Linked DNA regions of Homo sapiens: region 1 is linked to region 2. The links come from fine-mapping of genetic effects on gene expression. A gene starts in region 2. The other region holds a variant in brackets. All regions are shown on one strand. Distances are from middle to middle. Region 1 holds the start of FPR3 (formyl peptide receptor 3). Region 2 holds the start of ZNF649-AS1 (ZNF649 antisense RNA 1).

The links. PIP is the estimated chance that this variant, and not a neighbour inherited with it, causes the effect.
Region 1: its variant is fine-mapped to the expression of ZNF649-AS1 in lung (TOPMed, PIP 0.98).

Annotation. Positions count from the first base shown.
Region 1 is chr19:51,788,098-51,804,376 of GRCh38, forward strand. It overlaps FPR3 (formyl peptide receptor 3), which reads left to right and starts at 7,060. Exons shown (of 2, transcript NM_002030.5): 1 at 7,060-7,234. The variant CTT/C (reference allele first, on the strand shown) is at 9,212.
Region 2 is chr19:51,879,412-51,895,690 of GRCh38, forward strand. It overlaps ZNF649-AS1 (ZNF649 antisense RNA 1), which reads left to right and starts at 8,614. Exons shown (of 3, transcript NR_110733.1): 1 at 8,614-8,715. ZNF577 (zinc finger protein 577) reads right to left here and starts at 8,540. Exons shown (of 6, transcript NM_001370449.1): 1 at 7,410-8,540; 2 at 1,268-1,466; 3 at 912-990. The coding sequence starts at 971. ZNF649 (zinc finger protein 649) reads right to left here. Exons shown (of 5, transcript NM_023074.4): 5 at 9,824-12,486. The coding sequence ends at 11,207. RefSeq lists enhancers at 293-813, 7,813-8,664.

The DNA of each region.
Region 1 (16,279 bases), 91 kb before region 2:
ACTAAATTACTTTCTGTCCAAATTATATCATTTAATAAGTTTATTTTGATCTTTTCACTTTTTCATCACTATTTTGGTGTGTTTTTTTTTTCCTGGAAATTGCCACCTCACGGCCCCAAGATAGCTGCCATAGCTCCTGGTCTCACAATACAGCATCTCATGCCAGGAAGATAGGGATGAAATGAAAAAATACTGAAAATTTTAGATCTGAGGCGAGATATGTTCAGATTTATTTTATAAAAATTTATCTTTGGGTCCTAATAACAAGAAGCATTTTAGAAGATTCCCAAGGAAGGAAGGGTAAGAAGTATAGATGTGTCTAAGAGGCACAAGGAAACCAAAATACTGTGTGTGTGTGATGGTTGGGAGGGGGGAATTAAAATAAGGGAAATGGCAGAGGACACCATTATGCATAAAGGAGAAGGACCCAGATGTCAAGAGAAAAAAAGAGGCAAAGGACCCCACAGAGACTAATTGCCAAACACATTTGCAAGTCTTTTGAAGTCCAATTATTCTTCCTAAAACTGGGTTCCTGGATGCCTCTGCATGTTTCCCATAAACTCTCGTTATTAAAACATAAGCAGTTGGGTATGGTGGCTCACACCTGTAATCCCAGCACTTTGGGAGGTCGAGGTGGACGGATCACCAGGCTGGTCAGGAGTTCGAGACCAGCCTGGCCAACACGGCGAGACCCCATCTGTGCTAAAAATACAGAAATAAGCCGAGCATGGTGGCGCATGCCTATAATCCCAGCTACTCAGGAGGCTGAGGCAGGAGAATCACTTGAACCTGGGAAGTGGAGGTTGCGGTGAGCTGAGATCATGCCACTGTATTCCAACCTGGTTGACAGATCAAGACTCCATCTAAAAAAAAAAAAAAAAAAAACAAAAAACCAAAACATAAGTAGGTTTTCTTTCTTGCTACGAAATGGCCCATGATTAACAAAAATGCCTAGAGGCAAGTAAACAGAATAAGAGTCTTAAAATGAACTTTCACTCCAATGGGGCAAAAATCATCTAAGGATCGTCTCAGTCAGACATGGGTGAGACTCAAAGTATGATTCATCCTGAGGCAAATTCCTCTTCAGCTGTAAGCCTGTTAAATCAGACAATTACGTGCTTTCGAAAATATAGTGGTGGGACAATCTAGGATTGACATTCCCATATCAAAAAGGAGAAATAGGAAGGAAGAAAGGGGAACCAGATCCTGAGGAAGTCCAAAACAATGTGGCAAATACATTTTAAGGCCTCAGTATAATGTTCTTTGACTCCATGTTCTGCTTTTTGGACACATTGGAGCTGGGGTTGGGCCACAACAGCTCTGGGCAGAACCACCATCATGGCTTTGCTGGGTGTAGCTGATGCAGCAGCTCTCAGGGGCTGAAGTCAGGTGCTGTAGCTCCCCAAGGGTGGTATTGCACACAGGTGGCTACACTGTTCTGAGGTCTCAGGGGCAGCCTCACCCCCAGGGTTCCACTGGACATTGCCCTAGTGGAGGCACTCTGTGGTGGCCCCATCCCCGCTGCTGTACTGGGCATTCTCTTAATGCCATCATATTGGGGGAGGGACTCTCTGTGGAGAGACAGAGAGTCTCTGGAGACAGCCCTCTCCCTGAGTTGCATGCCTGCGACTCCAGGTAGCACCTTCCTTCAAAATCTAAGGGGAGGCAGCCACAACCCCGCAGCTCATGCACTCTGTGCCCTGGTGGAGATGACACCACACAGATGTAGCCTTGGCTTACAGCCTGTGCCATCCAGAGAAGTGGCCTGAGCCGCAGTCTGGCGTGCTTGAGCCAAAGCTTGGAAGGCCAAGGAGTGCTATACTGGAATATGGGGAATACAATCTTGAAATTGTTTGCCGCCAAAACCTTGAAATTGTTTGCATTCTGTGCCTGTGATGGGCAGGGAAGATGTGAAGATCTGTGAGATGCCTTCAGAGTCATTCTTCCATTGTCTTGATGAATACTATCTGGCTTCTATCCATGCTAATCTCCGTATCAAATGTTCACTTACCCACACCATTGGTGTTCTCCCCTGAACATACTTTTGCACTTTTTACAGGCTGAGAATTTTCCAAATCTTTAGGTTCTACTTCCTTTTTGATTATAATTGCCTTTTTTTTTTTTTTTTTTTTGAGATGGAGTCTTACTCTATCACCCAGGCTGGGGTGCGCAGTGGCGCGATCTCGGCCCACTGCAAACTCTACCTCCCAGGTTCAAGCAATTCTCTTGCCTCAGCCTCTGAGTAGCTGGGATTACAGGTGTTCACCACCACACCCGGCTCATTTTTGTATTTTTAGTAGAGACAGAGTTTCACTATGTTGGCCAGGCTGGTCTCGATCTCCTGACCTCATGATCCACCTGCCTCGGTCTCCCAAAGTGCTGGGATTACAGGAGTGAGCCACCGTGCCTGGCCTATAATTGCCATTTTTTATGTAACTCTTTTCCTGCATTTTACTATAAGCAATCAAGAGAAGCCATGCCACACCCTCAATGCTTTGCTTAGATGTAACTTCCACCAAACATCTTATTCCATCACTCAGAAGTTCTACCTTCCACAAAGCACAAGGACACAGACACAATTCAGCCAAGTTCTTTGCCACTTTATAATGAGGCTGTCCTTTCCTACAGTTTCCAATAATATTTCTCATTTTCATCTGAGATCTCATCAGAATGACCTACTTCTACATTTCTACCAATACTCTGATCATTATTGCAATCTTCTTCTGAGCCTGTAGCAGAATCACCCTCAACGTTACATTCATGGAAATGTAGAGTTTTTTCTAGCACTCACAAACTCTTCCAGCCTCTCACATTACCCAGTTCCAAAGCCATTTCCACATTTTTAGGTATTTCTAATTATAATACCTCTACTTCTTGGTACAAATTAGTCTTTTAGCCCATTTGACCTGCTATAACAAAATCTATTAGAGTAAGTTATGATCCACATAAATTTATTACTCACAGTACTGGAGGATAGAAAAACCAACATTAAGGCTGGGCACAGTGGCTCATGCCACCATAATCTCAGCAGTTTGGGATCGCTTGAGGCCAGGAGTTTGAGAACAGCCTGGGCAACATGGCAAAATCCCATCTTTAACAGAAAAAAAAAAAAAAATTAGCCAGGCATGGTGGCACATTCCTGTAATCCCAGCTGCTTGAGAGGCTGAGGCACGAGAATCCCTTGAACTCAGGAGGTGGAGGTTGCAGTGAGACGAGATTGCACTGCTGCACTCCAGCCTGGGTGACAAAGCAAGACTTTCTCTCAAAAAAAAAAAGGAAAGAATAAAAAAAGAAAAACCAAGGTTAGGATGCCAACAGATTCCATGTCTGATGAGGGCCCATTACTCATAGACAGCGCCTTCCATATGTCCTCACATGGTGGAAGACAGACAAGCTCCCTCAAGGCTTTCTTACAAAGGCACTAATCCTATTTATGAGGGTGCAACCATCACGCTCTAATCTCCTCCCTATGGTCCCGCCTTTTAATACCATAACCTAGGGGGTTAGGATTTCCCATACAAATCTGGGGAGGGGAGAAACAAACATTCAGACTGTAGCAGATGCAGCAATAGTAACTTTAGGAATGTGGAATTTATAAAGAGCACTCATTCTTCCCCATTCCCCACAGCCATCCAGTCTCCAAGGCTGGTCTACTCAGCCTGGACAATCTGTCTCTAAGCTACGCCTCTTCTTGATCACACTATTCCTGCCCTGGGTAGCTCTTCAAGAACCTTACCTTGATTTCTGGCAACATTCTCCATTCTAATATCTCTGTCTCCAATTAGAAACATTCTCAAAGGCATCCCTTTGCAGGACTACAGAACAATATTTTTCAGAAGCACACACCTGACAAGTCACTGTCCTGCTTAAATGGTTATTCATGTTATTATGAAGAAATTCCAAGTCCTTCTTGTAGCATTCAGGACCCTCCAACAGATGGCTTCTGCCACTTGCTACACACTCAGTGTTTATTGCTGTCTGCCTCACCATCTATGCTCCAATAACCGCAGGTAACCTGCTATTTTTTGACCCTTTCCTGCGTGCTTTCACTCTCCTCTGCCTGGAATGTATTTTTTTTTGCTTCTTTATCTGAGTCTTTAAGATTCATCCCGGATGTTATCTGCATTGCACTTGGAAGTGACCCTGGACCCTGTCAGTCTCAGTTAGTTGTTCCTTTTGGGAAATCTCATAATGAACCAGGCATCTGTCTATCACTATATACCCCCACTCTACTGTGACTGCTTAGGGAAATGGCAGAGGACACCATTGTGCACAAAGGGTGCATAAGACTATGCTTAGTCACAGTAGAGTGACGCTGTCACCTCTTTACCTGGGTAGTCGGCATCTCCAGGGTAAGGCACATGTCTGTTTAAGCTCTATGTCTGCAGGAGCCAGCAAGGGAGCACCTCTTCAGAGGCCTCATGCAATACCCACCACCCTTTATTATACTGATAAGTAAATTCCATTTTAATCAGGTGGCAGGTAGCAATGTGCCACTGTCCTAGGAAAGCAATCATGATTGGCCTAAGCCAATATGAGCAACTTGTCTTTTTTTTTTTTTTTTTTTTTTTTGAGGTAAGGTATTGCTCATTGCCCAGGCTCGAGGGCAGTGGCATCATCATGGCTCACTGCAGCCTCAACTTCCCTGACAAAGCAGTCCTCCCACTTCACCTCCTGAGTAGCTGGAACTACAGGTCCACACCACCACACCCAGCTAATATTTTTTTGGTTTTAGAGATGGGGTCTCACTATGTTGCCCAGGCTGGTCTTGAACTCCTGAGCTCAAGCAATCTTCCTGTCTTGGCCTCCCCAAATTCTGGCATTACAGGCGTGAGCCACTGTCCCTGACCTTTATTTTTATGTATCGGTATTTTTGTTATTTCTTGGCCATTGATTGGTCTAGAGATGGCATGCTCTGGCAATGAAAGACAAGGAGAGGTCCTGAAGAGACTCTGGACAAGGTTTCCCTCTGTAATAAAATGGAAGAGGCATGTGAATGAGTCACATTTTCTGCCTGTCTCATGATTCTGGCTCGGGAGGGCCTGTTGATGCAATGTCCAGAACAGTGGCAGCCATTCTGTGGTCACTTTCAAGAAAGCCCTAGAAGAAAACCAATATGATGATGGAGTGGAAGGGTGACATTAAACTCAATTTTTGTTCAAACTCCAGATCTATCCCCTTCCAAAACTTTTTTTAATAATAAATTTCTCCATGGCTTATGTGCTTCATTGGTTTACTCTACCTTATCACTGAAAACATCCAGTGAATCAGAGAGAAAATAGAAAATAGTTGACTCTTGTTTTGTGGCTCTCCACTGTTTTTCATGGTTCTATTCCTTGGGCTTGAGAACAACATTCTGATGGTGTTTAAAAACTCAGAAAGAGCCCATCTCCTTAGATCAGTAGTCCATAGAGCATCTCCCTAGGGGCAGAAGGTTAGGGGGTTAATCTCGGCAATGGTGTGGAGTGTACAGTGTCTCTCATTTACCTTCCTTACCTCTCTACATGCTCCTAGTTACTGCTTCTCTTTGTAACTCTGAGGTATGAAATACCTCAAAGCATATTTGATTTTGTCACAGATTTCTGGCACAGGGCTCTTAAAACCCTTGGAATTCCCTGAGTGATAGGAGTATTATTTGTTATTCATAAACAGCCCCTTTTGATCATAGCTGAGTTTATGCTAAGGAGATCATGGCCTTAGGATGGGACTGGTCACCAGAAAGACCAAGGGATTAGAGGGTTGGAGCTGTCAGCCCCACCTACTGATCTCCAGGAAGGGGAGGCAGGGACTGGAGATTGAGTTCCATAAAAACTCTTGAACAATGAGATTTGATGAGCTTCCACATTGGTGAACACTCAGGAGTGCTGGGAGAGTGGCTGCCTGAAGAGAGCATGGAAGCTCCATGCACCACCCAACCCCTTCCCTGCCATATACCTGCCATATGCCTCTTTCCAATGGACTATTCCTGAGGTATATTCCTTATATAAAGCAACAGATGCAAACAAAGTGCTTTCCTGAGTTCTGTGTGCCATTCTAGCAATTTATTGGTGTCATTGGAACACCCAATTTATAGCCTGTCAGTCAGAAGTACAAGTAGCCACCTGGGACTTGCAACAGATGTCTGATCTGATCTGAGAACAGTTTGTGGGAGTGAGCCCTTTAGCTTTTCGGATCTGAGCTGAATCCAGGTAGACAGCATCATAACCGAATTTTTAATTGCAGGTGGCCCAGGTGGTGTCCCCAGAGAATTGGAGAATTTCTTGGTGTAGAGAAAAAGTATATTTGGTCAGAAGGATTGTGAAAGTAGAGAATCGAGTTTTTGTTTCACCGTGCATCTTTGTTTTTTTATTGTTTTTCCTCTCATTCTTCTCACCTTGGTAATTGTTTCTTTCATTTTCCTGAATCTCTGAAAAGAAAGGGCCTGGACTCTCAGATTTCTTGGCCTTTGATATTTGGAAGGATGAACTCCAGTCTCCCACAGAAGGCTAGAGGTGAAGGAACATTCAGACACATAAGTTTCCAAGATAAATCGTCTGAGAACATCTCCAAGGTGTCTTCTGGGAATGGTAAGAAACCCTGAGTTTGTGTCACTGGATTGATTCCAGCTCCATTGTCCCCGTGTCCTTCAACTAAGTCTCTGCTGAAGCCTGTTCTATAAAAACAGCAAGTAAGTGGTTTGGACTGACCTATTGTACTAGGTTCGACAAAGCAAACCAAATGGAGTCAGTCATACTAAAACTCCACATCACCAAACCAAAACTAATGTATCTGAACTTTTGAGAAATCAGGAGAGAGAGAAAATGGACAAATTCCTAAAACAGGCCAGTTTCAGTGGGCATGAACATGAAGTTCTGTCTGCTTTCATCTTTACAAAAAAAAAAAAAAAGCAATCTGTGGTAACTTGACTTCAATCAATCAGTTGTTCCTTATTGCTGTCTCTCTATTCCTGCTGCACAAAAAAAATGCAACATCCAGATGACCAATCAGGTTTTTGTTCTCTGTTTCTGCTTTCTTTAGCCCTCCTATCCCTGTAAAACCAACTTCCTTGGCTCTAACTATCAAAACACTCATTTTGTTTTATAGCATGACAGGCTGTCTGATTCCATCTTTATAACCAAAGCCAATTAAGATCTTAAAACCAAACATATAACTTCATCTTTTTACAAGTACTTAGAGCCTGAGTTGCTCCACAGGAATCCAGGAACTGGGCACAGGAAAAGGATCTAAGCTGGTGGTAAGTTGGGGTCTGAAAATTTTAAAGTTATTGTTGAAATGCCTGCTATATGACAGAGCCCTTCTAACTCTGGAGTAGCGTAGTCCAGTGAAGAATCCACTTCGTTAGTATGAAAACAATGTTAACTATTTCATTAACAGTGTTTAATTTGGTTACATGTTCCAGTAACATTCTTTTTTTTTTTTTTTTTTTTTTTTTTTTTGATGGAGTCTTGCGCTGTCACCCAGGCTGGAGTGCAGTGGCACAATCTCAGCCCACTGCAACCTCTGCCTCCCAGGTTCAAGCGATTCTCCTGCCTCAGCCTCCTGAGTAGCTGGGATTACAGGCACCTGCCACCACGCCTGGCTAATTTTTTGTATTTTTAGTAGAGACGGGGTTTCAATATGTTGGCCAGGCTGGTCTTCAACTCCTGACCTCGTGATCTGCCCACCTCGGCCTCCCAAAGTGCTGGGATTACAGGCGTGAGCCAATGTGACTGGCCAATTCTTTATCATATATGTAATTAAATAAAATTTATTACTAAAATAATTTCCCCAAAGGTGTTTTACTTTTTTAAAAACAGTGGCTACAAAAAAATTTTGAGTCCCATATGTAGCTAAAGTTAACACATTATATTTCTACTGGACATGTAGCATTGTAGAGATGTAGCATTGAAGGATCTTGATAGTCCTGTGGAGCTTACGTACTAGTGTGGAGGGTATTTAAGAGAGAAGATAAATGAACAAACAAATAAAGGAGAAAAGTATCTGGTGAGATAGGCTGTACCTGAGCATTCTGCTTTGCAGAGTGGGTGAGGTGGGATCTCTCTGAAATAATATTTGACCTGAAATATGAATATTCAGGATGAGCCAGGTGCAGGAAGCTCAAGACGAAGAGCACGGTAGGCAGAAGGAATAGAGAAAGCAGAAGCCCTGAGATGACAAAGAGCTGCAAGTTCAAGGAATTAGAGCCCAGTGGGTGGAGCCCAGTGTGTCTGATGAGAGTGCAGAGATGAGGTCTGAGGGATGCACAGGGCACATGTGGCAGTGGATAAGGGAACCTAGGATAAGGGAACCTAAGATAAGGGTAACTTAGAAGTCTGGAAGCCATCGGAAGGTATTGCGAATAACATCACCATCTTATTGGACCTTTTTAAAGCTCATTTGGTTTCTGTCTGGAGAATGGATCTTAGGGGAGGGGGCAGCAGGACCAGGAAAAAGCTATTTGCAAGGCTTGTGCAAATATCCAAGCCTGACAGGGCCATGGACACCGGTCGTGGAGATGGCAATGGCTCTGGCTGTGCATTCAGCATGTTCTGTAGATAGAATGAGTAAGACGTGGATGGCGTTGGGTGGTGAGGAAAAGAGAAATGAAAGGTGAGTTCTAGATCTGGAGCTTTAACAACTGAATATTTAATCTCCAAATAGATACAGAATATTGGAAGAGTGGCAGGTCTGGGAGGCAGAGAACATCAACAGTTTGGTAAAACCATGTGAGGTTTGGAGTCTATGGGACTCCCACGGGGAGAGGTTTTATCAGACTTGAGTGCCAGGGAGAGGCCACGGCTGATAATTTAGATGAAAAGACAGCATAATGGTTTAATCCCAGAGACTGGATGATATCATTTATAGAATGTGAGATACCCCAACATTTAGAGTCAAATTTAGAATAGAAAACACCGTAAATTGGACTAAAAAGAGGAAGAGAATCGAGCTGTAGAGACGACCAAGAGTGTATTGTGTGCACATATCTCTTGGATATATCTCATGGCATAGGAAAAATGTGTTTGAAAAGGGAGAAAGTGATCCAATGGGTCCTGTGTCATTGGGATATCAGGTCTTAAAAACTGAGAAGGACTCACTGGATTTGGCAGCCTGGGGGTCATAAGCATCCTTGGGAAAATGCATTAGGTGGAGTGCTAAGGACAGAAGTCAATGTGGAGTGGATTAAGGAGAACAGCTGAGGCGAAGAAGGAAAAGGAAGAATTAGAGACATTCT[CTT/C]TGGATGTTTGGCTGGAAATTCTGTCTTACAGACAGACCTTACAGAGAGGTCATTTGGCTAGATAGGGTTGAAGCTGGAAAGAAATATGCTTCAAAGGAGGTTTCTCTTGAAAGAGAGGGGGCGTGATTATGTGATAGAATGATCTAGTAGAAATACAATTTTCAATTTTTTTGGTATAAAAAATGATCTTTTATCCCTCACCACATCCCACCTCAATCTAAGTCTTAACTTTCTCGTCTGTACAATGGTTATACAAATTAAAACTAACATTAATCAATATTCACCGTGTCTCAGGGTGTGTTGAGTGCTTACACATATTAACACATCCCATCCACAGAGCCTATGAGAGGAGTTGTGAGGGTTAAGGGAGAAGCTCTTGGTGTGTGGATAATGTTCATAAGTAGAAGCTACTATTGCTATAAGCATCGTTCTTGTCCTGACCCTGAGCTTCATAGTGCAGGGTTCGGGATTGTACCCCACAACACAACACACAGCCTGGTGAGGGCTAAGAGTTCTAATTTGTTACAGATTTACCGACCTATCCTAGATGATTTCCATGTCTATTCTTTTTTTTTTTTTTTTTTTTTTTGAGACGGAGTCTCGCTCTGTTGCCAAGCTGGAGTGTAGTGGTGCAATCTCAGCTCACTGCAACCTCTGCCTCCTGGGTTCAAGCGATTCCCCCACCTCAGCCTCCAGTCCATGTCTATTCTATTTAATCCTCCCCTGAAAATCAGTCTTTATCAAAAAACCATTTCAGTTCTGCAGAGGGGAAAATGGGGGCTCAAAGAGATGTCACTGATCAAGAATTTACACCATCGAGGTGTCAGAGATAAGATCAGAGTAGAGATCTAACTGACTCCAAAGCCTGGTACTCTTTACACTGTTACAGTGACACCCAACTGGCAGGGGGAGGGGGTGGGAGGTATTTTGCCTCCCAGGGGATCTTTGACAATGTCTTTTGGTTGTCACTCCTGAATGGGGAGTTGCTACTGGCATCTCTGGATAGCGGCCAGGGGTGCCGCTAAACATCCTACTGTGTACAGAACAGTCCACCACAACAAAGAATTAACCAGCCCAAAATGCCATTGGTGTCAAAGCTGAGAAACCCTGAGCTACACTAAACAATGTCCCTGGGAAGACCTCAGTGAAAGTGACTGATAATGATAGGAAAAAAGAAGGAAATGAGTAAAAGAAATAGGAGAAAAAATTTATTATACGAGGGCAGGACCCTATCCTGGTAATTTTGGAAGAACGCCTTTCAATGGCAGCACTTGAGCGTGCAAAGGTAGTGGCTCTGTTCGGTCTGGTTTACAAATCTTCCTGTCTCCACTGACTGGCTAGGTATGATGCTGAAAAAACTACAGGAGTCCCTGGGCCATGGATTCTCCCTAGTAAAAAAGGGATGATGATGGCTGCCTCACAGTGTTATTATGAGTATTAGATGTAAACAAGTGCTACATAATTGCTATCATTCTTAAAGAGGCTAAATAGCCCAGGGTGGGAAGATTCTCAGATTTTCATGATCATAGAAAATTGCTGTAGCTTGGCTGGGCGTGGTGGCTCACACCTGTAATCCCAGCACTTTGGGAGGCCGAGGAGTTCGAGACAGCCTGGCCAACATGGTGAAACCCCATCTCTACTAAAAATACAAAAAATTAGCCGGGCGTGGTGGTGGTGCCCAGCTACTGGGGAGGCTGAGGCAGAAGAATTACTTGAACCCAGGAGGCGAAGGTTGCAGTGAGCCGAGATCACACCGCTGCAGTCCAGCTGGGTGACAGAGGAAAAAAGGGAACCATTCGGACATTTGCCCCTGAACTTGAAGTGCGCCACACCCCACTCCCACTGCCAGTTGCCACCCCCGTCAGCTCTCTTTCTGCCTGTCCTCTTGCTCCTCTGAGTGTGGCCTCCAGATGTCTCATGTACCTCCCGGGGTCTGTGAATACTAAAACCTCTCGAACTTTAACACTGTCGTCGCCTCATTGAAGCCGCACCCACAATCCAACCCACGATGTGAGGCTGCCCGAAAGCGACCTGGGCAGTTGGATCCCCTCTTGATGTTCTTTTGTCCTGACCTCTGGTGGCTGCTGAGGATGGTCACTAGCAGCTGAGTTGATAGAGAAACTTGAAGAGCTTCATTTAATACTACTGGCATAGCAGGCAGGCTTTTGGCTGTGTCTTGGACACAATCCCAATGTCTGTGTGTGTGGATGACTCACGCACTTCCTGCATCAGACAGCCCAGTCGGTCTGGCCCAGACGGCACTACTGCTTGCTGGTGCTCCATTTTGCTGCTTCGTGCAGCTTAGTACTGCTGTCCTCAGCAGTTAACTTGGAGATTCTCCAGAAATTCCAGTGACCGTGGACGGCTCTTTGAGGCTCCAGGCTCCCCAGCAGCTGCAGGAGGGCAGATCCTATTGTAATGAGGGTGTTTCCCTGTGGGACATCAGAAACCCTTTCTGGGATCAGGCCCCTGACAGGGGGCCACTACTGGAGGGCATGTTGCCCCTTGAGCCATACATGCTTCTCTGGTGACCTAGGGCCTCGGTAGTGGTCCGGCCTGTATTGGCTCTAAGTAGCAAAGTACTGGCCTCCAGCCAGAGAGAGCTGGCCAGGATGCTGAGCTGGCCACCCGGTAGCCCATGGCTCGATCCTCAGCTCTACCTCCATCTTGCTGATGATAGGGCCATGGGCCACCAGGCTCCTGGGGAGCAGCGATTCCACCATAGTGAAGTTGAAGAGGATGACAGAATGCTGGCTTCAGTGTGTCAGTGAAGGGGAGCTGGGTGAAAGGGTCCAGTCGCCTAACTCTAACCTGTGACACGGCAACTGCACCTGAGTCCCCAGGGCACCTTGCAAGAGCCGGTGCTGCTGAGGCCAGTGCCTCCTTGGTTGCTGCATTCCTTGGTGCTATCACTTCTCGTTCTCCCAGCCCCTCAGAGGTCGATCGGGTCACCCTGGAAAGAAAAGCGGCTGCCTACAAGGCCAGTGCAAGTGGAGCTCATTGTTCGGTTTTGAAGAGAAAGTGAGATTAAAGAAAGACACACAAAGACAGAGTGTCTCAACAGCAAATGCAGGCATTTATGTCCAGTATAAACCTGCAGAGGTGCCAGTGCCCACCACTGCTTACAGGCTGGGGCAATTACAGGCCTGGGTGGGAGAGGTCTGGAAGTGGAGCATGGCCCGTTGCCTGGGAAAATGTTGATAACATGTTCCCATGATGAGGCGGTTTGGCACTTGTTCCTGCAGAATGTGATAGTGATGTTCCTTGGGCCTTTGCCCGGCAGAGTGTGATAAGGATGTTCGTGTGCCTTGTGGTCAGGTGGTTGGGCAGGATGTTTCTCATGGCCCGAAACCCCATGGAATGTTTCACTTTGACCAAAGTCTGCAAAATGGTGGGGGGCTTACAAAGTGGTGCAGTTTGGACTAACTCTCAATACCATTTTTTTTTCTTTTTTGGTAACAATGTGTAAAGTGAAAACAGCAGAGTGCTACTCCATACCACTGGGATCTTGTCCAGTAAACATCCAGAGAGTGAGGTTAGGAAATAAAAAGTATATAAATATTAGATGCCTAGAAATGCAAGTCACTTTAAAGATTTTATGTGAAATAGAAAAAAAAGAGAGGAGAGGGACTCATTGTCTTGTAATGGGTCCTTCCCAGAGAGAGGTGACTGTCCAGTGGCACCGGGCCCTTTTCCTCCTTCCCCTTTTACTCTTATCAACTAGGACAGAAACTAAGAATTTTGGCTTCAAGTGGCTAAAAGACTGATGGGGGAAAAAAGAAAATAGAAAAAAATAACAGAGAGACTGACGCTCTAGGCAGTTACAAGTCCAAGAAAAAAGACAGAAACTTTTAACTTTAAGTATTGAGCCAAAACCAGGTCTAGCAAACATAATGCTGGCCCTAGATTATTTATTAATTTATGAAGAAACTTCTAGATATGGGGGTGACAAAAGGAAATTAAATCCATTATATATGCATATATTTTAATGTAAATATATAATAGATAAATTATGTATACATAATATAGAACCAAATTGAAACAGTTTTACAATTTGGTTTGACTGGAAATTCAAAATCCATATATTAATTTTTGTAGTAAAAGTTTATGTAAAAAAAGACAAAAAGGACACTGATTGGCTTTTGTTCCTCTACAATATAGGTTCTAACTTAACTTCTAACATTAGCGGCCGGACGCGGTGGCTCACGCCCGTAATCCCAGCACTTTAGGAGGCCGAAGTGGGCAGATCACCTGAGGTCAAGAGTTCGAGATCAGCCTGGCCAACATGGTGAAACCCCATCTCTACTAAAAGTACAGAAATTAACCGGGCGTGATGCTGGGTGCCTGTAATCCCAGCTACTCAGGAGGCTGAGGCAGGACAATTGCTTGAACCTGGGAGGTGGAGGTTGCAGTGAGCCGAGATTGTGCTACTGCACTCCAGCTGCACGAATTGACAAAATTTATGGACTTCATAGTGGGATTCAAATTATAGTTATACATAGGGATCTCATTAAATTTACTTACTCTACTCCCATAATCTTGAGAAGCTAACTAAAATTTTGAAAAATGAGTAGACCTCACTTTATCTGTAGCGTCGCCTAAATTTCCCAGTCATACAGTCATTGCTCTAAAATATTCTATGTTGGACATAGATTCTGTGACACAATTAATAACAAATTAAAATTAAAGTAAGCTTTTGGCACTTACAAATTGGCTTGATCAAATGAGGCCCCTTAGTCCCCCAGTTAAGATAATTTATTACGGCCCAATAGAAGTTGAAACAGCACCTTCAAGGATTAAAATTTATTATATAAAACCGAATTAATAAAAGCGTGATTATCGACACCACATCTCCATTTAGCAACCCAAAAGTTCTTCCTGTTCCCAAATCTGAAAAAAAAAAAATTCGTAAAAATGCCTTACGATGGATGACTACAGCAGACGGGCTGTTGAGGGCTGCCTCAGCTCTTCAGCCCAGACCAGTGACAGAGCTACCAACACTGCTTCACCTCCTGCAGAGGTAGAGGTACAGGCAATGAGAGGAGGGGGTCAGGGATATTTTTTAGCCCTTTCTCATCCTACCCTCATGCCAGTCCCAGCTTTATCTACCCTTGAGTCATATTAAGCCATTCAAGGATGAGTGGATGAAGTTTTTAATCAGGAAAAAATACTTCCATGCCCCCCAATTTGAGAGTAAGAAATAGAAAATGAGGCTATTGTGGGTGTCATTTCTAATTTCTGGACCTCAGCCTGTACCCTGGGGTAAGTGGAAGTGGAAAAAAACTACAAGAAAACAGAAAGAGTGGTGGGGATTTGTAAGGCTTGGATGAGATAGTATATATTAAAGGGAAAACTTAATTACTTTACCCTTAAGTGTAATGTTTGCTGTCACCTTTTTGTATCTTTCTCTTTTTAATCAGACTGTTGAAGGTGTCTTCTATTCTTACTTTTTAAGAGTTCTCTTCTTCTATTGCTTAAATTATGAATGGATGTTAAATGTTTTCAAATGTAATATCTGCCAATATTAACATGATTATTTTTATTCTTTCATTTACATCGTTACAGATTATTTTATTGTATACAACTGTATACAAACTTCATATGGTTCCTTTCATATAATAAGAATGTAAGCTGTCTGAGGGCAGGAATTGTGGTCTGTATTGCTTACAGATGAATCCTCACCCTCTATGTGTAAAATAGTGTCTGACATGTGGTAGGCACTCAATAAATACTGAATTAATGAATCAATAAATAGTGTCACCTAGATATTTAAGTGAGAAACATTTGATGTCTAATTAAAATTATCTCTGTTACAAATTATTTTATTAAATTAAATTAATTTAACTAAAATTAAAATAACGTGAACCAAGTCATGTCTAGTAAATTCTCATCCTCATGTGCGCAATATTTATAAATTCCCAGGTGGCTTCCATTTTCATGAACACCTTAAATTTTGAGTTTCCACTTCAATACAGTACTCTCACTAACAACTGCCTAATGACTTTGTATTTAAATAAATAAACTCATAACTCAGCCCTTTACCTTGCTTTCTCCACAAAAACACTCAGAAATTGTCAATTTTGTATTGTGTAACATACTTTCCTGATGCACTGGCAAAAGACACCACTCAACATGAATACCAAGGAATCCTGTTATCAATGTCCTCTCTCACTCCACTGCTTTACTCATTCTTCTCGTCTTCTCTAGAGTTCTGTGCATTTCCAAGGCAGAGCAGTTTGACCATTTCATTCACACTTTTGACTCCTATAAATGCTTTCAATTTCCAAAAAAAAAAAAAAAATGTATATTCTTTAATGCCCAACTAAGTTGTGGCCATAGAAAATGAGGAACAATGAAAAAAATGCAAGACAGAAAGTCAGGAGCCACGAAGGACAGCGTGAGACCTCTAGATAGGAGAGCCAGGGCTTCCAGATGGGCTAATTAATAGACTCCCTCTACTGCCAGGACAGGGGATTCTTACCTTTCCTTCCCACTGGCCTTGGTTAATTGCAGTAGAACAGTGTCCGCTACATCTCCCTTTTTTCTTTTCCTCATTAGGAGTTTCCATTGTGGATTCCCAATTCTCATTGCATCGTGGTATATTGGGGCTTTGAAGCTAAGTATTCTTTTAAGTTATGGGACACTTATCACAAAGAAACTTCAACATAAAACGTTGGGGATCTCATCCTTGGGAAGGATGGCTCTACTTCTTCTATTTGGAAGAAGAGTGTAAAGGGATCTTGAGTACCTGAAGGCATAATTCTGGCCAAGACTGACAGCTGCCTAACCAACATTAATCACCCTTCTTCACTGCAGTGAATGCTTATAAGGGTCTGTTGCCTCGGCATCCAGTCTAAATACAAGCTTAATTTTCTCATACGAGGCTCAGGGCTCAGTCACCCTTGACACAGTTTCCAGTTCTACACCACAGTCACGAGTACAAGAAAAAAAAAAGAGGAACTTTAAATTTAAGTACTGGGCAGAATCCAGATCTAGGAAACGTAATCCTAGCCCTGGAATACTTACTGATTTATGAACAAACTTCTAATGGGAGGGTGATAAAAA
Region 2 (16,279 bases):
TACAAAAATTAGCAGGGTGTGGTGGCACGCACCTGTAATCCCAGTTACTCAGGAGGCTGAGGCAGGAGAATTGCTTGAGCCCAGGAGGCAGAGGTTGCAGTGAGCCAAGATTGCGCCACTGCACTCCAGCTCTGGGCGACACAGCAAGACTCCAACTTGGGGGGAGAAAAAAAGTAATAATATTTATAATTACATATGTATAAGTATACACAAGTATGTATACATAAATGTACATAAATATGAATATATTCTACCAGATGTCAATCACAGGGAGGAACTAGATAGAGACCCAAACTATGAACACTTATTTAGTATCCTTTGGGTTGAAGTTTGGGCAGAAAAAGGGTGAAAGGAGATACTGTCTTTTGATACAAATGCTTCTGTTTGCTTGAATCTCTTGCGTGCAAATGTAGCCATGTATCATTTCAGTAATTAAACATAGAAAAAGCAAAACAAGCCGAACTGGTGCTTTGTTTTTTGAACCTGGAGTTAAGAAGGTAAGAAAGAAGCATTGTCAGTATCTGCATTCCAAGCTGTTACCAAAGAATGGAGCTGTTAATTGTCTCCTGCTGTCTCAATAACAAAAATCTGGATGAGAGAATTCTTCTTCAGGGAGGATCATTCAAAGGTCAAGCAGCCCATTCATTCTACTGGATACTCCAGGCTTTATCACTGGGCAAAGTCAGATGACCAGAAGCCTCTATTTTCAAGGCACGCTATTTTCGAAGAATTTTGTCCAATCCAGTTTTCCTTTGGCATTACTCCTTAGCTTACCCCACTAAACAACAGGAAAAAGCCATAGAAAACATCCCATGCCTTTATTACAAGGCTGACTTTGAGGATACCGTCAACCACAAAAGCTCTCTGAAGGAAAGAAGTTTCTCAAGCTCTCACAGCAATGACAAATTTACCTCCCCTGAAGAACTGCCTTGCTCTCTCCTCACAGACATTACAATCGTGGCATTTTTCATGTGTTTCCTGTTATTTCAGCTGCCAAAAAAAAGGAGACACAGTTTAAAGCAGAGAAAACCCACAGGGTCTTAACAGTCACTTAGCTATGTTCCGACATTAAGAACTTTCACAAACCCCCTGATCCATATATCTTGTTTCTTAATTTGCCAGGATTTTAAGATTCCAACTTAAACTTATTTTCCCACAGATCCTGATTTTTATCAGCATACACTATCTCATTTAACCAGACTGTCTTTTACAAGCTTCCACAGACCCATTGGGAAACAAACGACAAAATAGGTAAAACAAACCTCACCTGGGCCTTGCCCATTTCGTTCAACTCTTAGGGGCTAGCAACTCTAGTATGTTCTCTCTCTTCTGTCTATTCTGGGCCTTCCCAGAAGTGGTGGTCAGGTATCATCTCAGGTCAAGCTACCACTGGAAATGATGATCTTCCCCAGCCTGGAAGCTCCTTCTTCCATTACTGAAAATGTCTTGTTCCTATAGGCCAGAACCTGTGGATTCAAGACCAAATTCAATGATAAGAAGACATGCTCCTAGGATCACAAGTCTCCAATTGCCATCTGGACTCACATTAACATCAGGTTCCAATATTTCATCTGTCTCCTTAACACCCTGGAAGCCATTACATCATGGGGCAGTGATCCAGAGGAAGATATGGAATGTGCAAGAGGAATGCCTTTTTTTTTGGTTATGTCAGAAATAGAGTGGATGTGAAACAGGAGAAAGTAAACAAAAACCACCTATGGTCTTGTCCACTGCCAAGTTCTCACATATATCAGTTTTAGGTAAGACAATGAAGGAAGTGGTAAAGCCAGACATGGTGGCATGTGCCCTAGAGTTCCAGCTATTGTAGAGGCTGAGATGGGTGGATCTCACCTGAGCTCCAGAGTTCAAGACCAGCCTGGACACATGGCAAGACTCTGTCTCTAAGAATAAAAACATAAAAGAAGTGGTGGCTCAAGAAACTGACTTAAAATCACCACCGGCAGCCACATGCTCCTAAATTTTTGGTTTATTGCACTGTCTTACTAATCATACAAACCATAAGCACTGTCTTACTAAACCCTCGATACTACTTTATAAGGTACTCATTATTATTTCCATCCTAAACATGAGTAAGCTGAGGCTTGCTGAGACAACGTGTGTTGTGCAGGTTAACATTCTTCCTCATTAGTAGCATGGGAACTTGAATCTACATCTGGGGTCTCTCCCTTGTGATACTTCCCTCCTACAACAGCCTTACAGTGCAAATTTGTTCTCTTTCCTACCCACTTTTAGAACTTTACTTCCCAGCACTTTACACTGCGGGGTGGCCACATAGTCACAGCTACACAAACAAGGGCCTGTGATCTCCTAATGCAATATTCAGTGTGGATGCTCAGCCTGCTCCTTCCACACAGACAGGAAAGCAAAGGCGGTCCCATCTTTGCCCCAGAAGCAGCAGTTCAGAGATCAGTCTCCCCAAGAACCACTCTAGAAACTCACACTCTGAGAACACCCACACTGTGAGAACAACTTGAATTTTGCTGTCATCCCAGCAAGTCATTCTCAAGACTCTCTAGCAAGCCTGTATCCTTTACACCCAGAGAGCTGATCTCCAAGCCATTTTCTGACCCACTGGTAAACGCACTGGTCAAGATGCAAACCTCCTCTACCTTCAATCCTGAGACCGCTTCATCCCAGCCCCAGCCCTTCAGTCTAGCCTCCCTACAGGACCAGTCCAAAAACAGTGGTACCCAACCCAAATGCAGAAATCCATATGGATAGCTAAGAGGTAGAAAAGGCCATTACGCATGAATGGGTTGGAGCTGAGATCTCCAGGGTTGAAAAATCCAGGATCCAACCATTCCCAGAAGCTCATGGCAGGCTTTCCCTCATACATAATACATCAGAATTGCACCAAATACTCACGCGGAGAACATGGCAATGTAACCGAGAAGGGCAATGATACCACCCTGACTGGTAAGGATAATCTGGATTTCCTACTGAACTGAGGTTCAGGTCAAATGTCCAGAGGACACTACCTAAATTAAAGAGGAATTTTCTTAAGAAAGGGGGCTTGGTTGTCAGATTGGCAGCCAACAGTATCCAATAAAAAAAAAAAAAAAACTAGGGTCTGCTGTGTTGGCTCAGGCCTGTAATTGCAGCAATTCTGGAGGTGAAGGCAGGAGAATTCCTTGAGGCCAGGAGTTCAAAACCAGCCTGGGCAACATACCAAGACCTTGTCTCTACAAAAAAAAATTAAAAATTTGCCAGGCATGGTGGTGCATGCATGTAGTCCCAGGTACTTAGGACGGTGAGGCAGGAGGATCGCTTGAGCCCAGGAGTTCCAGGCTGAATTGAGTTTATGACCGCATCACTGCACCCCAACCTGGGCAACACAGCAAGATCCTGTCTCAAAAAAAACAAAAGGCAAAAAAAAGGCTTCCACTTCAAATAAAAGTTAGGATGCTTCCAAACCATTACAAGCCCTCAGCCTTATCTGCTTTTGGGAGGAATGAAGCAGGGAGGAAGGAAACAGGTGATTTCTCCCATATGATGTCCTACCTTTGGATATGGCTGACTGCTGTATCAGGGTATCATTTTGTGTGGGCTTTTTAAAAAAAATTTTTTTTTTTTTTTTTTTGAGAAGGAGTCTCAATCTGTCGCCAGGCTAGAGTGCAGTAGCGCGATCTCAGCTCACTGCAACCTCCACCTCCCGGGTTCAAGCAATTCTCTGCCTCAGCCTCCTGAGTAGTTGGGATTACAGGTGCCCACCACCACGCCCGGCTAATTTTTGTATTTGTAGTAAAGACGAGGCTTCACCATCTTTGCCAGGCTGGTCTTGAACTCCTGACCTTGTGATCCACCTGCCTCAGCCTCCCAAAGTGCTGGGATTACAGGTGTGAGCTACTGTGCCTGGCCAAATTTTTTTTTTTTATAGAGACAAGGTCTCGCTATGTTGGCCAGGTTGGTCTTGAACTCTTGGCCTCAAGCAATCCTCCCACCTCAGCCTCCCAAAGTGCTAGGATTACAGGCATGAGCGACTGCTCCCAGCCTCATGGTATAGTTTAACTTGTTGTTCTCTACCTACCCAACTCCCAGTTTTTCCTTTTAATTAAGTGAGTAGTTCAACTTAGAGGTTTGATTAGTCCCATGTTCAATTTTTTTAGGTAAGAATCCTTCATGGATGGTGCTGTGTACTTCCTACTGCAACATATGAAGAGGCATGAGGGCAAAAAAAACAAAGAAAAAAAAAGGGGGAGCTGTTATAGAATTAAAGAGATCTAAGAGATACAACAAGCAAATCGAATGCACCCACATCATTTGGATCATGATTCAAACAATCCAATGTTAAAAGACAATGATGAGATGATCAGAAAAAAACTGAATGTGGACTAACTATTCAATGAACTAAAGAAATAGGCTGGGCACAGTGGCTCACACCTGTAACCCCAGTACTTTGGGAGGCCGACATGGGCAGATCACTTGAGGTCAAGAGTTCAAGACCAGCCTGGCCAACAGGAAGAAACCCCATCTCTACAAAAAAATACAAAAATTAGCCTGGTGTGGTGGCAGATGCCTGTAAGCCCAGCTACTCGGGAGGCTGAGGCAGGAGAACTGCTTCAACCTGGGAAGTGGGAATTGCAGTGAGCCAAGATAACGCCACTGCAGTCCGGCCTCGGTGACAGAGTGAGAGTCCACTCACCCAAAAAGATAAGGAAAGAAATTATTATTAACTTGGATACACTGAAAATGGTCTAGGATGGGTGAAGTGGCTCACACCCGTAATCCTAGCACTTTGGGAAGCCGAGGCAGAAGGACTGCTTGAGCCCAGGAGTTCAAGACCAGCCTGGGCAACATAGCAAGATCCTGTCTGTAAAAGAAAAAACAAAAAGGAAATGGTCTAGTGGTTATAAATTTTTTTAATGACCTTACTGGTTAGAGATTCATACTGGGATACGTACAAGTTTCAAGGCATGAAGCCTTGGATTTGCTATGAAAGTCTCCAGACTAAAACAAAAGTGGAGGCACAGATAAATATGACTGATATGACAGATGAATATGAATTGATAACCATTGAAGCTAAGTTATGGGTAAATATTATACTCAATTTCCATGAAAAAAAGTTAGAGTCATCAGAGCCTGATGAGTTCTATCTAATCTTTACAGTACAGAGATGACTCCAATATTATGTAACATTCATCAATCACAGAAAAAGTGAAGCCTCTCTAACAATTATATAAAACCAGCATTTCCAAACACAAATCAATAGAATAAAAAAAAAAAGAATTATAGAGATAGGTGCTTTTCCATTGATTTTCATCCTTCCTTCTTTTCTAATACTTGCATTCAAGGTTATAAATTTCCTCCACTGACTGCTTAGGTTAAATTCAACAAGGGTTTACATGTAGAATTCTTATTAAAATGCAATTGAAAATATTTCCACTGTGATTTTTTGAACTCAGATTATTTAGAAGCGTATGGCATAATTAACAATCATTCTGACAAGAAAACAGCATGTTCTGAATTGATAGTTCCAAAAAGTCACATGACTATTCTATGGTGAATAAATCATTTTGATATTGATTTATAGCTTAATTCCACTATAGTTAGAGAAAATATTCTATATGGTTTTAATCATTTGAAATGTATTTAGACTTGCCTGATGGCCAACCATACGGTGACTTTTTATAAATGTCCTATGTGCATCTGAGGAAAATTATTGAGTGCAGTGTTTTATATTGGTCAAGTTTGTTAATTAGGTATGTCATTCTAACCTTTCAGGGGTTGGGACTATTGTGGGTTAGCTGAATGTTTTTGTAAATAATGTTTTATCAGAACACAGCCACACCCATTTGTTTACACATTCTGTACAGCTACTTTCATTCTATAATTGCAGAACCTAGTAGATGCAGACAAGACCATTTAGCCGGCAGAGACTAAAATATTTGTCATCTGTCTGCACCTTTACAGAAAGTTTGCCAGCAATGGTTAATCTATACCCTTTTAGCTTTTTGTCTGCCTGTTCTCTCAGTTACTGAGAGAAGTATGTTAAGAATTTCCCATTATGATTGGGCATTTGCGGTTTCTCCTTGTGTCTAGCATACTCCATTCCTCTATACTTAACACACTAAGTATATGCTCTATTGACTTTTTTTTGAGATGGAGTTTCATTCTTGTTGCCTAGGCTGGAGTGCAATGGCATGATCCCAGCTCACTGCAACTTCTGTCTCCTGGGTTCAAGTGATTCTCCTGTCTCATCCTCCTGAGTAGCTGGGATTACAGACACCCGCTACCACGCCCTGCTAATTTTTGTATTTAGTAGGGATGGGGTTTCATCATGTTGGCCAGATGTCTCGAACTCCTGATCTCAGGTGATCTATCCGCCTCAGCCTCCCAAAGTGCTGGGATTACAGGCGTGAGCTCTCATGCCCAGCCCTCAATAGAACTTTTATGCACCAAAAGACATGTAGAAAAACGTTCATATCAACAATACTCATAACTCCCATAAGCCATAACAATGTCTCTTGATAGTGGAATGGATAATATGGGGTATAATCATCAATGGAATACTACACAGTAATGAAAAAGAAACGAGCTACTGCTATATGCAGCAACTTAGATGATTTTCACAACAAAAATATTAAGCAAAAGAAGCCAGCCACAAAAGAATGTGTACCTTAGGATTTCATTTATATAAAGATGACAACCAAGCACATCTATGATGTTTTTAAGATAATAATTACCTTTGGAGAGGAGAGAGAAGATGAGGGCTTCTGGGATGCTACATTATTCTATTTTTTTAACCTGGTGATTTTCAAGTATAATCACTTGAAAAAAACTTAAGAGACCAATTTCTCTTATAAATGTATAGGCAAAAAAATTTTTTAACTTTCTACTATGAAAAATTTCAAGCAAAAGAACAGTATACTCAAATTCCACATATTCATCATGTGACTTCAAGAATGACGAACTCACATCTAATTTTGTTTTATCTATACCACCATTCAGTCCCTCTCCAGCAATGGATTATGGATTATTCCGAAGCTAATCCAAGATATCTTTTCATTTTTTGATGCAAAAATATTAAATAAAATTTTAGCAAATAAAATCCAGTCTCATATTAAAAGAACAAACCATTATTGACAAGTATGGTTTATTCCCTCAGGAATACATGAAATTGGGAAATAGAGCAACACAAATCAAAGAAAATTTTAAAGAGAAAAAAATAAATGAAAATAATTGTAATGGTCAAAAGCCCTTAGGAAAGAGAAATAAAAACTTGATAAATCACAGTAATTATTTATTCAGACCATACTACGTACCTAGTACTACACTTTGAACATACTTAAAGAACATTTGCTCACTTAATCTTCATAATGATTCCATGAAAAAGAAACTATGACAGCTTTTTTCCACAAATAAGGAAACTGACTCAGAGATTAACGTACCCAAGTCAGAGGCAGAGGCAGGTACTTCTTACTCCACAGTCCATACACTTGCCACCTGGCTAAAATTATTTGCAGATGACAAAAATGCTCAACTAGAAAAAAGACGTCAATTTATAAGTTATATGTAATGACATGAGTACAATGAAGTGACAGAATAAACATATATATTTTTAACTTCTGTTCTTGTCAACTAAGTAAAATTAGGAACAAAAAAGGAAAGGGGGAGGGGTCTTATGCAAAAAAAAAGTCACGATTTACAACAAAAAGTATTAACTATGTAGAAATAAGCATAACCAGAAATGTCCAAGATACGTATGGAAAAACACTACAGATAGTCAAACAAATAAAAATATTGGGTTAATAGAAATCCATCACATGTTCCTGAAAGTGTTGTATCTAGATCTACATCAATTCTACCCAAATTAAAGCAACCACTTGATGAAACTGCAGCAATTTAAAAAACTCTCAAAGAGCATGTAATATGGGAATACGAAGTTGACAAGATGTTATTAAAGACGAATAAAATTATACCAATACCTAGACACCTGATCCCAACATTAAACATGAAATACACTAAACCAGAGTTATTTTCTGGAGGAGTATTTAAAATGATGGGGATGTTATTACTTGGGTCGCAATGAACCTGAAAACCCATTTTCTACAGAATATACAGCAGCAGGGAAGCAAGGGGACCAGCAGACCCCTTTTTAAGTACGCATGTGATAAGCAATGAACACGAACTGCCCAGAGCAGTCTCCAACACTGACACGATTCGCTTCCCCACCACGACGCCCTAGCGCTACTGTGCAACGAAGACCTCCCAAGCACTGGTTCCAATGCGGAGACCATGGGCTCCCAGACTCTGGGAACTCCAACACGACTGCGAAACGAACTCCGAGCGAGGACTCCCCGAGAGCTCCCCGCAACACGGACCTCACGCGCTAGCGAACAACAGAAAAAAAAAAGCGCGCTCTCCCTGCCCCTGAAACATTCCCAGAAGCCCACGCAGACCAGACCGATGACCTGTCTCCACTGCTGGAGGCGAGTCAGGGACCCGAAGTCTCTAAACACTCGCCTCTACCCGCCGCCCCGCGAACCCCACACACTGCAGACGCGACACTCGCAAGTTTCGGGGATGGCGGCCGGCGAGGGCCATACTGCGTCTTTCCGGAGACACGGAATACGGCACCAGCCGTCCCTTTATGATGCAATATGTCTGCGCCCAGGGGACGCTTGCTGGGAGCAGCCATTTTCAACCCTACTGCCGTAGAGCAGGCGGAGTCCCTCTTTTCGCGCCTTAAGACAGGTAGGTTCTGACGATGAAAAGCAATTGAAAACGACCCATTTCACCCTTTTTCCAGTCCACGTGAACTGCTAGATCTTGGCTTTGCAACATTAGCCAGGGGCGCTACATAAACTGCTTAGTTTCTCAAAGGCTCAAGCCTGCCCTGATCTGTCTACAGGATGGGTAGAGATGGTCACAGACATTTAGGCACTTTGATCCTAAGAAGAATGGAAAGAAACCATGTGGCGCGGCAGTCTTACAGGAATTTCAAGAGGGAGGGACCTGAGCAACAATCGGAGGGGTTATTACTCCTGAGGATGCATCTGGCTGGAGAAAGCAGCCTTTGAGAACTGCCTAAGAAGTATCTTTACATCTACATCAGATGTAGCCTCAGAGGAAGGAGTCAGTCATAGAATGGATAAAACAACCGCGTGTTAAAGCTTTGGTTATAATTGGTGTGGAGAATGGAGAACACAGTTGATCAGCAGTTGACAAAGTGGGGAACCAACACGAAAACAGGGCTCTCTCACCCTGGAAAAGCCAAAGGCAGAACAAGCCTTTACATCCAGGAAGGTGGGAGCAACTTGAAATCAAAACTCTGAAGGGGAGATGATTCTGTTCAATACTGAAACTCAGCTGATCAATTAACTGATGAATTCTAGCACCAAACCTGCTCCCTATAATTTTATAACCAGCCTCAGAGAACCTTTAAAGGGATTGATCATTCACTCATTTATCCAGCGAATGTTTATAAAATGCCTAATGTGTCAAACACTGTTGTGCGTGCTGGGAATACAACAGTTGGAAATTCAGGCACAAAGACTCTCATTCATGGAGATTACATTCTACTGGCAATTTCAGTGTGTGAGCTAAATTGAGTGGTGCTAACTGTTGACTTGGCTGGTTGACTGAAACTTGGACTCAAAATTTGCCTACACTAAATGAAGTTTAAATGCCAGAAATTTCCTCATATATTATAAAGTACCCAAAGATAAATGGAGTTTGGAATGCTAGAATGAATTTATCATGTAAAATCAAGATTACCCATACCTCAAATATGTATTCCAGTAGCATCTAGAAGACAATCTCTTCACTGACACTGATCTGGTCACAGGAAATAGAGATATACTACTGTAAGATTATTTTATTATACAGTAAGTGATATAATGTCCTTGAAGTTAGAATGATAAGTTCATGATTTTCTTTCAGTCAGTTCAGGCTACTAGAAAAAATACACCATAGACTGACTGACTGCCTTAACAAACATTCATTTCTCACGTTCCAGAGGCTGAGGAGTCTCTAGAACTGGACTCTAAAACACAATCAAGGTGTTGGCAGGTCTAGTGTCCAGTGAGAGTCCATTTCCTGGTTTATGCATGGTCATCTCATTCTGTCTTCACATGGCAAAGAGCAGAGAAAGAGAAAACAAACTCTCTTCTGTGTTGTCTCATAAGACACATAATCTCATCATGAGGGTTCCACTTTCAAGATGTAATTACCTTCCAAAGGTCACACTTCCTAATGCCATCCCTTAGGGATTAGGACTTCAACATGTAAATTTGGAGAGGACATAAATATGCAATCCCTCACAATGATGTATGCTATAAAATCTCAAGGAATCAAATGACAAGGATTTACAGTTAATAAGCCAACAAAGGAGACAATATGTAATATAAACACACTCAGCTACTCTAAGGGAAAGCAGAAAAAGAAGAAAAGGAGAACAAAGAAGACATAGAATAAACAACAAATAGTAAGTTAGTAATTTAAACCTAAAAACATCAATACATTGAACGTAAATGATCTAAATACCCCAGTAAAAAGACAGAGATTGTTAACTGGATAAAAAAGGAAGGCCCAACTGTATGTTGCCCACTAAACACCCACTTTAAATATGAAAGCATAAATAGGTTAAAAGTAAAACCATGATAAATAAAGATATGAAAGATATAACAGGGAAAAACCCATGTCAAATTATTAGAGGTTAAAAATTACAATTTCTGAGAGAAAACATACTTTGGATGGGATTAATGACAGATTAAACACTGTGGAAAAAAGATTAGTGAACTGAAAGACATAGCTATGAGAACTATAAAAAATGAAATAATGAAGGGTAAAATAATAAAAAGCATGAACATCATTTTCATGTACATATGTGTATACACAAAAAGATTTGTGAACTTGAACAAGGCAAGAGATACAATCTAAACTACAAAGAGAACAAAAGCTAACCCCTACCTTGGCCCCCGGAGTAAGAGATATCATTCTGAGGAACACCAAGTGGAAGCCTCTAAAACTGCCCCCCTCCCCAGCCAAACTCTATGATCAAGATAGTAAATGAAAAACAATATTGTGGGAGGGGTAGTGAGGTTTATAAGATATAAAAAAGTAAAATATATTTCATATCTTGTAAACCCTACTATACATATTAGTGCAGGGAGCCAAAGGCCCATGGGACATGACAAACTCAGCATTCCGCTGGAGGCTATATGATCAAACAGCAAACTGTTTATCATGAATGCAGGATGTGGGCAAACTCACACTGCCCTGCCACCATTGCCACAGTTACCATATTAACAGGGCTTTTCCCCTGCACATGTTCACTAGGACTTAAGCTGTGACTTGCTGTGGAAGGATTTTCCACCTTCACTGAATCCCCCCGTTTCTCCCTTGAGTGTATTCTCTTATGTTTAACAAGGCAAGACATATAGAAGTAAGCTTTCTCACACTCATCACAGCCATAGGGTCTCTCTCCCGTGTGAGTTCTGTGATGTACAATGAGCATTGTCTTTGTAAGGAAGGCTTTCCCACAGTCACTGCATTTATAGGGTTTCTCTCCTGAGTGAATTTTCTGATGTCTAATGAGTCCTGACTTCTGTGAACAGGGTTGCCCACATTCAGGACATACAAAGGGAGTCTTTCCTGTATGATATCTCTGATGTGCTACAAGGCAAGACTTCTGGCTGAAGGCCTTGCCACAGTCAATGCATCCATAAGGTTTCTCTCCAGTGTGAGTTCGTTGATGTATGTTGAGATTGCCCTTCTGAATGAAGCCTTTTCCACATTCACTGCATGTATGAGGCTTCTCTCCTGTATGAGTTCGCTGATGTACAACGAGTAGTGATTTTCTGGAGAAAGCTCTCCCACATTCGCTGCATTGATGGGGCTTAATTCCCGTGTGAATCCTTTGATGTTCAGTAAGCTCAGATTTCCTGGGGAAGGCTTTCCCACATTCACTGCACCCGTATGGTTTCTCTCCTTTGTGAGCTCTCTCGTGTTCAGTGAGCCTGTACCTCTTGTAGAAGGCTTTCCCACACAAGCTACACCCGTGGGGTTTCTCTCCTCTGTGAGCTCTCTCGTGTTCAGTGAGCCTGTACTTCTTGTAGAAGGCTTTCCCACACAAGCTACACACGTGGGGTTTCTTTCCTGTATGAATTCTCTTATGCTCAGTGAGCTGAGACTTCTTGAGGAAAGCTTTCCCACAGTCAGTGCATTCATGGGCTTTCTCTATGTTGTGTGTTTGCTGATGTTTAAGGAATTGTGACTTGGTGCTGATGGGTTTTCTACTTTCAGGGAATTCAATTTCCGTAGGCATTTGTTCATGATTATCATGGAGAAAAGCTCCATCTCCATTAAACTCAGCAGGCTCCTTTCTGTTGTATCTTCTGCTCTGGTTGGTTAAACCTAAATATGATTTCAAAGTTCTTCCGTGTTCATAGCGTTGTCCCGTCCTCTTCAGTATTTTTTGGTTTTGCAAGGGCTGCTGCAGATGATCATCAGCTTTCTCAATTTCTAAGAGAGAGAACAATAAATCCTTCCATGATCATCACACGGAATAAAACTGCTTCAAAGATGCCTTGGGGTTGGCTGGCTTTTTACTGGAACCCCTATAATACCAACATGGAAGGAATTCCAAGTATAAGTGTTCCCTATCTGTTAAAAAAACTTTTAAGAATTGTAGTTAAATACATATAAGATAAAATTTGCCAGCTGGGTGCGGTGGCTTATGCCTGTAATCCCAGCACTTTGAGAGGCCAAGGCGGGTGGATCACAAGGTCAAGAGATCAAGACCATCCTGGCCAACATGGTGAAACCCCATCTCTACTAAAAATACAAAAAAATTGGCTGGGCGTGGTGGCACGTGCCTGTAGTCCCAGCTACTCAGGAGGTTGAGGCAGGAAAATCGCTTGAACCTGGGAGACAGAGGTTGTAGCAAGCCAAGATCGCTCCACTGCACTCCAGTCTGCCAACAGAGCAAGACTCCATCTCAAAAAAAAAAAAAAAATTTGCCAGCCAGGCACAGTGGCTCATGCCTGTAATCCCAGCACTTTGGGAGGGTGAGGTGGGAAGATCACTTGAGCCCAGGAGTTTGAGACCAGCCTGGGCTACAATAGGGAGACTGTCTCTACAAAAACTTTTTTTTTAATTTAAAAAAGAATAATCCTGAGTAGGGAAACAGCAGACATAGGTAGTAGAATAAATATCCCAGAAAGGCAAGTTAGAATGTTGGATACACAGCCTTTGACTTCATCCTAATCCTATTAGACTGTTGGGTGCTAAAATATGCCCTTCTCCATTCTGTAGACCATCATCACGCTAACTTTCCTAGAGCACCAATCTCATATTTCCAGGAAAACTGCAGTCAATACTCTAACCTTTGTTAAAACAGAGATCACAAGACTGATGGAACAGACTCTTTGTAGCAATAAGATACCAAACTATAAACTAGGTCTAAGGACATACAGGTAAGGGTTAAGTCACACACCCCCTACATTTAAAGAATAAACTATGTTCTAACTGCCACGAGTGTTTTTTGTTTTGTTTTGTTTTGTTTCTTTTTCTGTAGCAGCTAAACAAACACTGGCCTTGGGACAAGCAATATTGAAACAATTGCAGCTCCCGGACCACCAGATGCTGACTAACTGATGCCCCTCACCCCCAACAGCATTCCACAGGCCATAACTGCAGCTATGATTGGACAGGAGACTGATCTCAATATCCTTCTCCTGATAAACACCAGCTGTTTTGGTCAGCTGCCGGAGTCTGTGCAGACTTTTCTTATATCCTGTAAAAGACCTGCTAGCATACAGTCAAATTCCACCTCATTTTAATGTTAAAACTCCACTCCAAAATGAAAGTGGATTATATGTTACATATATGTTTGCTCACTATGCACATGTTTGCTGATTCTCATAAAGATATTCATAAGACTCCCCATCTCTCACTGAATAGGTATGCAAAGCAAATCCTAGAAGGCAAAAAGCCTCCTGCAAGGCAAAAAAAAAAAAGTTTCCCCTCTTCAGTGATGTGTGTTTTTTCCACTTCCTCAAAGTCACACCACTCAGATCTGCGAATCATCTTTTGTTAGAATATAAAGTTTCTCTTTGCCTCCTCAATTTTTTGGTTAACACCTTGTATCTACCTGGCTATGATATATTCTCATATGTTCCAACAGAAAGAGAAACAGGGTGATCCCTATGGACTTTCAGAACATGCAAGCAGAACACGTGGTCCTCTCCACACAGCTCTGCCACTGCACCAAATATGGAAACTGTCACCTTCTTCATCATGCCCTACTTGCACAGATGTCATATTGGATTTTTTTTCCACTTTGCTGTCCCTAATATACTAATTCCTCACCTTGCCACTAACAGCCTCTACTCTCTGAATTTTGTACTTATGTCTCTGTTGGCATCGGTGAATGGAGCCCTCAAGGACCACCTCCCTACTTCTGAATCAAGACTTGAGGCAGCTTTACTTTTAGTTTTTCTTAGAACATCAGCTATACAGTATGATTGCTATAGTACTGCCACCAGGTGAAAGGTAAGCTCTACCTAGAGCTAGAAAAATACAAAACTTTACCTCCACCACTACCCTGAATTACTGGCACAGAAAATTCACAGCAGGAGCTGAACAATAAAAGTTTTACCATTACCATGACGCATCCACTTTAAGTTCCCACTTCACCATTTCCCAGCAAATATCTTCTAACTGTGGCCTCCATGTGACCAGTTTCAAGCTAATCTTTTTTTTTTCTTTTTTTTTGAGATGGAGTCTTGCTCTGTCACCCAGGCTGGAGTACAGTGGCACGATCTTGGCTCACTTCAACCTCCGCCTCCCAGGTTCAAGCAATTCTCCTGCCTCAGTCTCCCGAGCAGCTGGGATGACAGGCACGTGCCACCACGCCTGGCTAATTTTTTGTATTTTATGTAGAGACAGGGTTTCACCACATTGGCCAGACTGGTCTCAAACTCCTGACCTCAGGTGATCTGCCCAACTCGGCCTCCCAAAGTGCTGGGATTACAGGCATGAGCCACCGCACCCGGCCTTCAGGCTAATCTTCTGACAGTCCCCACATGGCCTTGCATTTCCAGTTCTACAACTTCTTGTCATATGTCTTCATCTTAATTCAATACCTAGCTATGTCTCTTGCATAAGATATTTTATCAGTCTGTCTTTCTCCATCTTGTCTAGACCACTGTAGGTTACATTTCTTCTAAAGTCCTACAATTCTTTCTGTATTTACTATTCACTTTAACTTTGTATAGCCCTGAATTGTAACAAAAACATTTCACACGTTCAAAAGTTTAATTTGTAAATATTACATAAAAATTTGCCCTATTTTTGCTAACAAAATCTTTGCTCAAGAAAGACATTTCTGTTTCTCACTAAATTCAGTCTCTTCTACTGTGTATTATGGCTACAGTTCATCAACTCATAAAAACAGCCCCCGAGAGAGCTTCATGTAAAGACACGCCCAGGCCCCCAACTCAATTCTAACAAAACCAGACTCACAGAGCAAGAGGCCTTGGTATGGACAGTGTCATGAAAACTCCTTTAATAAAGATCTAGCCTTTAAGAAATGCTTAATAGATGGAAAAGTATGACCTCTCTTCAGCCTGGCTAATCTGTCCTTCGATGAAGAAATGCATGAATGACCAAGATGTATTTCAATCTTACATGAAGAAGAATGAAAACCAGGCCCTTGACTCCAGAGTAGCAAAGGAACCTCAAGCACCACCAAATCACACTGATGTGGTATCTATGGGAGTGGCTTGTGTGTGATTGGGATGCAAAGTAGAATGGGAATTTAGACATGGAAGATATTATTATATTGTAGTGTATTAAAAACCATTTCATGAAAAGAAAATTCAAGGTGAAAAATACATAGTGTCAGAATGTGAAAAACAAACCATAATCACATACCGATGCCTCAGTTTTTTTGTTTTTTTGTTTTTCGTTTCTTTTTGTTTTTTGAAACAGAGTCTCACTCTGTCACCCAGGCTGGAGTGAAATGGCGCGATCTCAGCTCACTGCAACCTCTGCCTCCTGGGTTCAAGTAATTCTCCTGCCTCAGCCTCCTGAGTAGCTGGGACTACAGGCACATGTCACCACGCCCGGCTAATTTTTGTATTTTTAGTAGAGATGGGGTTTCACCATGTTGGCAAAGCTGGTCTCAAACTCCTGACTTTGTGATCCGCCCGCCTCAGCCTCCCAAAGTGCTGGGATTACAGGTGTGAGCCACCATGCCCGGCCTCCTATGCCTCAGTTCTTATCTCACTTGATGAATCAGTAACTCTAGACA